3 separate regions of the Homo sapiens genome follow, and all the other regions are reported to be linked to region 2. Evidence: microRNA targets listed by miRTarBase, many of them from high-throughput screens and not tested one by one. Region 2 holds a microRNA gene; each other region holds the end of a gene's coding sequence.
The links. Region 2 holds the annotated microRNA hsa-miR-548an (AAAAGGCAUUGUGGUUUUUG, at 815-834, opposite strand). A microRNA usually pairs through its seed, bases 2 to 8, with sites in the 3' UTR of a target mRNA and lowers its output. Matches are read on the target gene's strand: a 7mer-m8 pairs with bases 2 to 8, a 7mer-A1 pairs with bases 2 to 7 and ends in A, and an 8mer does both.

Region 1: miRTarBase lists SDC4 as a target of hsa-miR-548an. Seed matches in the 3' UTR shown: 7mer-m8 at 1,753-1,759.
Region 3: miRTarBase lists GNAT1 as a target of hsa-miR-548an. Seed matches in the 3' UTR shown: 7mer-m8 at 285-291.

The regions. Positions count from the first base shown.
Region 1 is chr20:45,324,516-45,327,771 of GRCh38, reverse strand. SDC4 (syndecan 4) reads left to right here. Exons shown (of 5, transcript NM_002999.4): 5 at 357-2,484. The coding sequence ends at 508. Among named protein-coding and RNA genes, the nearest start is that of MATN4, 18 kb to the right of the region's middle.
Region 2 is chrX:106,637,438-106,640,661 of GRCh38, reverse strand. MIR548AN (microRNA 548an) reads right to left here and starts at 848; the gene lies at 766-848. It overlaps RADX (RPA1 related single stranded DNA binding protein, X-linked), which reads right to left. Exons shown (of 14, transcript NM_018015.6): 8 at 2,738-2,902; 9 at 975-1,135; 10 at 1-110.
Region 3 is chr3:50,194,677-50,197,932 of GRCh38, reverse strand. GNAT1 (G protein subunit alpha transducin 1) reads right to left here. Exons shown (of 9, transcript NM_144499.3): 8 at 2,977-3,168; 9 at 237-2,665. The coding sequence ends at 2,978. Among named protein-coding and RNA genes, the nearest start is that of GNAT1, 4.7 kb to the right of the region's middle. RefSeq lists enhancers at 2,434-2,965, 3,018-3,256 and a silencer at 3,152-3,211.

The DNA.
Region 1 (3,256 bases), not on the chromosome of region 2:
CTCAGGAGGCTGAGGCAGGAGAATTGCTTGAACCTGGGAGGTGGAGGTTGCAGTAAGCCGAGATCACGCCACTGCACTCAGCTCGGGCAACAGAGTGAGACTTCGTCTCAAAAAGAAAAAGGAGTGGCCTTACCACTAGCCCTGTGGTCTTCAGTGACTTAAAATGCCAACGACCCACTTCTTATAACTGGGGTCATGAGGTCAACTTAAATAAGGCATCAGCTTGCCTGGCACAGGCAGTGGTGATGGTGAGGATGTCTGGTTGTAAGAGAACTGACAGTGGGGGAAAGAGGGGTTCATCCTTAGGTCCTGATGAGGAGCTCTCACCCCCGCCTCTTCTCTCTCCTCCTCTCCAGCTCTGATTGTGGGTGGCATCGTGGGCATCCTCTTTGCCGTCTTCCTGATCCTACTGCTCATGTACCGTATGAAGAAGAAGGATGAAGGCAGCTATGACCTGGGCAAGAAACCCATCTACAAGAAAGCCCCCACCAATGAGTTCTACGCGTGAAGCTTGCTTGTGGGCACTGGCTTGGACTTTAGCGGGGAGGGAAGCCAGGGGATTTTGAAGGGTGGACATTAGGGTAGGGTGAGGTCAACCTAATACTGACTTGTCAGTATCTCCAGCTCTGATTACCTTTGAAGTGTTCAGAAGAGACATTGTCTTCTACTGTTCTGCCAGGTTCTTCTTGAGCTTTGGGCCTCAGTTGCCCTGGCAGAAAAATGGATTCAACTTGGCCTTTCTGAAGGCAAGACTGGGATTGGATCACTTCTTAAACTTCCAGTTAAGAATCTAGGTCCGCCCTCAAGCCCATACTGACCATGCCTCATCCAGAGCTCCTCTGAAGCCAGGGGGCTAACGGATGTTGTGTGGAGTCCTGGCTGGAGGTCCTCCCCCAGTGGCCTTCCTCCCTTCCTTTCACAGCCGGTCTCTCTGCCAGGAAATGGGGGAAGGAACTAGAACCACCTGCACCTTGAGATGTTTCTGTAAATGGGTACTTGTGATCACACTACGGGAATCTCTGTGGTATATACCTGGGGCCATTCTAGGCTCTTTCAAGTGACTTTTGGAAATCAACCTTTTTTATTTGGGGGGGAGGATGGGGAAAAGAGCTGAGAGTTTATGCTGAAATGGATTTATAGAATATTTGTAAATCTATTTTTAGTGTTTGTTCGTTTTTTTAACTGTTCATTCCTTTGTGCAGAGTGTATATCTCTGCCTGGGCAAGAGTGTGGAGGTGCCGAGGTGTCTTCATTCTCTCGCACATTTCCACAGCACCTGCTAAGTTTGTATTTAATGGTTTTTGTTTTTGTTTTTGTTTGTTTCTTGAAAATGAGAGAAGAGCCGGAGAGATGATTTTTATTAATTTTTTTTTTTTTTTTTTTTTTTTACTATTTATAGCTTTAGATAGGGCCTCCCTTCCCCTCTTCTTTCTTTGTTCTCTTTCATTAAACCCCTTCCCCAGTTTTTTTTTTATACTTTAAACCCCGCTCCTCATGGCCTTGGCCCTTTCTGAAGCTGCTTCCTCTTATAAAATAGCTTTTGCCGAAACATAGTTTTTTTTTAGCAGATCCCAAAATATAATGAAGGGGATGGTGGGATATTTGTGTCTGTGTTCTTATAATATATTATTATTCTTCCTTGGTTCTAGAAAAATAGATAAATATATTTTTTTCAGGAAATAGTGTGGTGTTTCCAGTTTGATGTTGCTGGGTGGTTGAGTGAGTGAATTTTCATGTGGCTGGGTGGGTTTTTGCCTTTTTCTCTTGCCCTGTTCCTGGTGCCTTCTGATGGGGCTGGAATAGTTGAGGTGGATGGTTCTACCCTTTCTGCCTTCTGTTTGGGACCCAGCTGGTGTTCTTTGGTTTGCTTTCTTCAGGCTCTAGGGCTGTGCTATCCAATACAGTAACCACATGCGGCTGTTTAAAGTTAAGCCAATTAAAATCACATAAGATTAAAAATTCCTTCCTCAGTTGCACTAACCACGTTTCTAGAGGCGTCACTGTATGTAGTTCATGGCTACTGTACTGACAGCGAGAGCATGTCCATCTGTTGGACAGCACTATTCTAGAGAACTAAACTGGCTTAACGAGTCACAGCCTCAGCTGTGCTGGGACGACCCTTGTCTCCCTGGGTAGGGGGGGGGGAATGGGGGAGGGCTGATGAGGCCCCAGCTGGGGCCTGTTGTCTGGGACCCTCCCTCTCCTGAGAGGGGAGGCCTGGTGGCTTAGCCTGGGCAGGTCGTGTCTCCTCCTGACCCCAGTGGCTGCGGTGAGGGGAACCACCCTCCCTTGCTGCACCAGTGGCCATTAGCTCCCGTCACCACTGCAACCCAGGGTCCCAGCTGGCTGGGTCCTCTTCTGCCCCCAGTGCCCTTCCCCTTGGGCTGTGTTGGAGTGAGCACCTCCTCTGTAGGCACCTCTCACACTGTTGTCTGTTACTGATTTTTTTTGATAAAAAGATAATAAAACCTGGTACTTTCTAAACTGCTTGCCTCTGTCATTTTCGTTCATAACAAGTCATCCTTTTTGGGCTCTGTATCCCCTTGATCTCAGTGGAGCATGAAGAAACTCCCCGGACCAAATCCCCTACGGGGTGCCAGACATGCCGGGGGTGGGCAGAGGGTGGGGGCAGAGAGGTAAGAAGGCAGGAAGGGGCCTAGAGAAGAGGGAAGACTTCAGAACATGCACCCTGATGGCCTATGCAGCATATCACCCCTACTTCAAGGTTTTGTTTAGGTGGCACTGTGTTTAAATAGCAAACACAAAAATCTTTGCGTCAGTTGCCATCCATAGAAATCAGGAGGTTTCTCATAAAAATCCAGATTTCTCACTTTTCTTGGGAAAAAGAAATAAAAAAAATTGGCAACTGTCAGCCTGCATGGCAACAAGAGAGCTGCTGAGCGGCAGGCACCCATCTAGATGTGGGCTCTCCGCACCACTGTCTCCGCCTGCTTCACTCAGGCCACTGCTGCAGCCAGGCTGGCTGGCAGTCTCCGGAAATAGCATGGGCCATCTTTCTTGACCACTATAACAACCCTGTGAGGTGGGTAAGATCCTTGTTACCAAGAGGGCAACCTGCCCCTAGTGTGTCTGGAGAGTCGAACCTTAATTTCAGGTCCTTGGACATTGGTGATCTTCCTTTGGCACCATGTTGCCCAGTACTTTGCTGGGGTTGGGGAAAGGACGCAAACAGGAATTGGTGGTAGTTGGAGCAAACCCTCCCATACACACCATGTGGCCAGGAACCCATTCTTAG
Region 2 (3,224 bases):
GTAGTTTGGAAATACTGAGAATTCACAGGCTCATCATCTTGATGCCGTTTACCATTTCTTTCTTGAATTTCTACTCTAGCTGCTTGAGAGGTCGAGGGTCTGTTAGCATTCTAAAACCAATAATTTAGAGAAAACACTTTAGGCTAATTCACAATTATTAATCTCATAAAAGACTACAATTTTAGTGTATTCATTTTTCATAATCAACAGTTCTGGCAAAACTTCAATCATAACAGTGCTTTTATGAAAATGATTGAATCTAATCCATCTGCTATTAAAATATTTTTTAAAAGGAAGACAAACAAAAGTCCTTCTTATACTACTATCTGAAAAGCTGGATTAAACACTTATTTCCATATAAATAGTAGTAGTCCTGGACGTAGTGTTTAAAAAGATAAACTCATGGGAAAAATTAACTTGTCTTGATTGTGCCAATATTCCAGAACTGGCATCTTCTATAATACTAAACTATTTATTCTAGAAGAGTTATAGAACCTGGGTAAGACTACTATGCCAGATATAGAGAAAACTTCCTATGAAAGCTTTCCTGTAGTACTGGCCTGGACAAAAGGTAGGAAATTAATATAGTCATAGATACCACCTAGAAATTTAAAACACCCACAATAGCCTCAAATTACACAGAATGCAAAAACAGGATACCAAGTTTTGAGGGCCTTGGGAAATGTCAAGAGGCTATAATCATTATTGGCCTAGTCTGCCCCCAAATAAATGACACAAAAAGGAAACAAACAAAAAAGTAAAAATATTAGGTTGGTGCAAAAGGAATTGCGGTTTTTGCCATTACTTTTATAGGCAAAAACCACAATGCCTTTTGCACCAACCTAATGTTTTCTCTTAGGCTTACATTATTAAGAGTCAATACACGTGAGTTCTGAATAAAATGTAAAAGGTACCAATTGCAATCATAATCACAGTGCTTTCAGAGAAATACTATTAATTCTCTGGCACCATACCCGAAGTGTTTCTGATGCTGAGGCACTTTCAGTCGCACTGCTATGGGGGATATACTTTATAGCAGTAATTATCCCCTGAATTGCAATGCGCTTTTGTTCCCTATACTGCAAGTCTTCAATCTCCTTCCTGACTTCACTTATAGCTGTCAAGAGCGACTCAACTGCAAAAAAGTCCAAGAAAATTGTAAGTTTTAAAGAACTGAAATGATAAAAATAAGAATTAGATTTGCAATGTAATTTCACAACACAAAATTATAAACTTACTACATTAACTGTGAGACACTGTGTTTATATCTGGCATCCTTCTATATAATTTTGTGAAATAGGCAAAATACTTTTATCAGTTAAATTTGAATACAGGCTTCCACTCTGTACCCCTCATTTGCAAAATAAATTTTGCATATTAAATGCAATTTACATATTATATTTCAAACTATAAAGTGTTGCCTAGCCACTGCATAGAAAAACACATTTTAATTATTTCAAACACTATTACATATTGCTAGCATTATGATGTATAAGAGGATGCCAATATTTAGATGATGATAGGTCCGCATTTTAAAGTTTCTCTTTTTTTCCAAAACCATGCAATTATCTCATAGCTTTTTAAAAAAGAACATGCTTGTGCTAAACTTTTCAACTGTCATATATTAATTCTACTAAAAAGTATATTAATAGTAGGCTTCTCATCAGTACTTCAATTCCAAATTCAGCATCTCATTTATTTTGGCATCATTTCATATTTAAAGATAGCACTCAATTGTGTTAAACACAATATATATCATTCCACAAGAGTCGCATAATACAGTTGTCAGTCTCTGAATATCAAGTTACCCAGTGTCTCCTTTAGATATCTTTAGTCTTTCTGTATAACATCATAGCAATTGAGATCTACACCAAGGTCAGATGTGATCTCAATGACATTAAATAAAGATATTTATAGGTTGAACATCCCTTCTCTGAAATACATTGGACCAGAATATTTCAGATTTCTGATTTTCTTTATTTTGGAATATTTGTATTATACTTATCAGTTCAGCTTCCCTAATGCAAAATTCCAAAATCTGAACTGCTCCAATGAGTAGTTCTTTGAGTGTCACTTCAGTACTCAAGAAGTTTCAGGTTAGGCCGGGCGCGGTGGCTCACGCCTGTAATCCCAGCACTTTGGGAGGCCGAGGCGGGCGGATCACGAGGTCAGGAGATCGAGACCATCCCGGCTAAAACGGTGAAACCCCGTCTCTACTAAAAATACAAAAAATTAGCCGGGCGTAGTGGCGGGCGCCTGTAGTCCCAGCTACATGGGAGGCTGAGGCAGGAGAATGGCGTGAACCCGGGAGGCGGAGCTTGCAGTGAGCCGAGATCCCGCCACTGCACTCCAGCCTGGGCGACAGAGCGAGACTCCGTCTCAAAAAAAAAAAAAGAAGTTTCAGGTTTTGGAACATTTCAGATTTCGGATTTTTGGATTAGGAATACTCAACCTATATCTCCAGTTGGTTATCATCTGTGTTTTCTCTTTTCTTCCAGTCTGATAAAAATCAAAGTATTAATCTTTAGAGCACCATGCGAGATATAGGGAAAACTATATAGAAAATACGTGACATATATTTTTAGATCTGCATTAAGACAAAGCTATTATCGGTGAATGTTGCTAAACTTTAGATCACTCCCATAAAAGAAAAGAATAAAGATGACTAATTGAAATAGCATAAGCCATACATATAAAATATAAACATATTTAGAAGGACTGGCAATTACATTAGTACCTTTAATAGAACTACTATACTTGGAAAATGTCTCTGGCACTGGTGGATAGGGGTAATATCCACCAATAACCATATTCTTCTGTTCCCCGGAATCAGACTTTGTTCTAATCCATTGAATAAAGTTTTTTACCTTGGCATCATACGTATACGGCTGGCCTCTATGACCTCCTCGCGGGAAGGGTAAATCATAAAAAATGAGAAATAAAAATGTCACTGTAACAATCTGTATGCAAATTTTTGTGTAAAAACAGTTTACTATTAAAACAATCCCTCTTTTATCACCAAGAAAAAAACAGTCAAGTTTACTTATTCACTATGTATAATTATCCAAAGACAGTAAATAAATCCTAAGAAGAAAATCAGACACACTGTGTATTAGAGTTTAAGTGGACTAAACTGTAGCTAGCTATAAGATGCTAGAAATCACAGGAAGAAGAAAAACTAATAATTTGAATTTTTCTAACCATCCAAATGGTTGACATCTTCT
Region 3 (3,256 bases), not on the chromosome of region 2:
TTGGGCATGGTGGCGTGTGCCTGTAGTCCCAGCTACTCAGGAGACTGAGGCAGGATAATTGCTTGAACCTGGGAGGCGGAGGTTGCAGGGAGCCGAAATTGTGCCGCTGCACTCCAGGCTGGCGACAGAGAGAGACTCTGTCTCAAAAAAAAAAAAAAAAAAAAAAGATTCACCATATGATTTGCCAGTTCCATTTCTGGGTATACACCCAAAATAATAAAAAACAGAGGCTGGGAGAGAGATTTGTACACCCATGTTCATAGCAGCATTATTCACAATAGCCAAAAGGCAGATGTAACCATTCATCAATAGATGAATAAATAAACAAAGTGTGGAATATATACAATGGAATATTATTCAACCTTAAAAAGGAAGGAGATTCTGCCATATGCTACACATGAATAAACCTTGAAGACATGATGCTAAGTGAAATAAGCCAGTTGCAAAAAGACAAAGACTTCATGGACCCACACATCTGAGGCACTTAGAGCAGTCACATTCATAGAGATGGAAAGTAGAATGGTGGATGCCAGGAGCCGGGGGAAGGCAGGAATGGGGGGTTATTTTTTCATGGGTACAGAGTTACAGTTTTACAAGAGGAAAGGAGTTCTGGAGATGAACAGTTGCGGTGGTTGTACAACATTATGAATGTACTTAACACCACCAAACTATACACCGGCAAGTGGCTGAGATAGTAAACTTTATGATACATGTATTTTTAAAACTGGCAAAAAATCCCTACAAACATATAGCAACAAATAGTTTTCCCTTTGCTTCAAGCCCCAATATATCTTAGCATGCCTCTGTTTGATCCTCTGTTGGATTTTGATATTTCATTCATTGTGGGGTTTTGCATTCATTTGATTTTTAAAAATATTATCCTAATATTATTTACCTTGGTTACTAAATTTTTTGGCATCGCCTTAAATGTTGCACCCAAGGTGAGTGTGCCTCACTTCCCTCACCCTAATCCCAGCCCTGCAATTATGTTCCTGCCTCGAGGGCTTCCAAGACTCTCCATCACCTTCTGAGAAAGCCCAGGCCCTCCGACTGGCTTTGGGCACCTGTCCACGTCTCTCCTCCCCTGCTCTTGCTCCACTGAACTCCTGTGGCCATAAGCCCATGTTTCTGGGGCTGGTAGACACTACGGTCCCTGCCAGAATGAGCCTCCACCTCAAAACTCCCTCTTGATCCAAGACTGTCCCAGTGAATATTTTCCACAGCTCCTCTCTCCTCAACTCCCGTGAAAAGCCATGAGTTGGTCCCATACCCCCAAGAGTGCCCCACCTTGTCAGGCCAGGTACTTCTTCCTGGGAGGGGCCATCTTCCCACTTCATGCCCAACCCAGCACTGGGCACTTAATAAATGCCCATGACTTGTGATAATTAAGTCCTCCACCAAGAAAGGACAGCTGGAGCCTGATGCAAAGGTTTATTGCTGAGTCTGTGCGTCTAGCTGAGGGGAGTGCAAATTGTGCCCCGGCCTTGCCAGACGGAAGCTCCTTGTCCCCGACTGCAGCACAGGCCCTGGCCTGTGGACATAAGCAAAGATTTGGTGCTGGATGAGGAAGGAGGGAGCAGGGATGTGGGGACATGGGCCTTTGTCCCTGATAGTTCAGCCATGGCTCTCAGCTTCCCCTGCCAGGGAACCCTGAATGGAAGGGGCAAGAGAAGCTGCTGGTAGGGACAAGAGGGTCACCCAGGTTTGCTTGTAACCCCACCTGAGGTAGACCCTTTTGGGCACAGCCAGGGCCTTTGTCCTATCCTGAATCCTCTGGGCTGATCCAAGGGAGCTGGACTCTGTCCCCAGCCACCCCTCAGGACAGCCCAGCTATTGGCCATAGCTGGTGTCAACAGTACCCTCCCTTAACCCCTTAACACACCATCCTGTTGTCCAACCAGCCCAGGGTACTGTGTGTGGGTGGGGAAGTGGTGTGTGGATCTGCTGTCCAAGGACACAGGGAGCAGATCCTGCTGGAGAAGGCTGGAGGTTGCTCTGAGCCTAGTATTTGGGGAAGGGTCCTGCTGTGTCTCACTCTGGCACCCAAGGGCCCCCAGGTCTGCCCCCTCCCCACTAATTTATTTATGTGGGGGCCACACAGGCCAGAGCTAGCTTGGACTTTGGACCCTTTGGAGGCTGCTGGGAGGGACAGTCACTGGCTCTGGGTAGACAGGTGTCAAACTTGTCACATGGAGGTGGCAGGGTGAGCAGCTGGCCTGTGTGTGGGAGGGATATTCCCTGTCCTTGATGAAATACTGGGAGGGAGGGCTGTTTGCTGAGCCCAGGCCCACCAGGTGAGTCGTGGGCCCCCAGGGGCAGGAGAGCTGCGGGAGATTGGTCAGTTGGGCACTGCTGAGTCACCGTGAGCTTCAGCTGCCCCAAGTCCTGCCCGTTCCTAGCTGGGGCTGGCTGCTGTGAGTCCTAGAGGCCAGTGCAGCCGGGCGGTGAAGGGCAGGGCTTGGGGTTGGGGGCATGAGGCGCTGGGATACTGTGGGAGGTATGGGGGAGGGTCCGCGCCTCAAGGCTAGCAGGGCTCAGAGCTTTGGTGAGGTGGCAGGTTGGGGCCAGGGAGTCCCAGGGGGCTGATAGGGTCCTGGGGTTTGGGGCTGCAAGGCAGCTAGGGCTACCAGGTCTCAGGGTGACTGACACGCATGAATTCAGGCACCTGTGAAAAGGAAACCCAGTCAGCATCCCTGAGACCCAAAATAAATGGGTTTAGGCATTGTGTGTGGTGGGGCGGCCCTGGAAGCTGTGACACCTGAGGTCTTGGGGCGGGGCCAAAAGAAATTCAATGGGTGGGACTTGTGGGGTGGGGCGGGGCCTCTGTCGGTGGGGTGGAGCCTGAGGAGCTGGGGTGGGGCCTGGAGGCAGTAGGCTCCAGGATTTGGGGGTGAGGCTCCAGGGCCGTGGTGTGGGGTGGGGAGCTGGACGGGGCTGGGGTATTGAGGCAAGAGCCTGGAGAGGGCAGCGACCTACCTCAGAAGAGGCCACAGTCTTTGAGGTTCTCCTTGATGATGATGTCGGTGACAGCGTCGAAGACAAATTTGACGTTCTGCGTGTCGGTGGCGCACGTCATGTGGGAATAGATCTCCTTCACGTCGCGCCGCATGTTGAGCTCGAGGAACTGCACCTTGATGTAGTTGCCGGCGTCCTCGTAGGTGTTGGGTCCTGCGGGGGCGGGAGCTCTCACTCTGCTCAGCCCTTCCTTCCCCGTGCGGGGGGTGCGCGCCGCGATCGTGGGGCGGGGGCGCCGCCT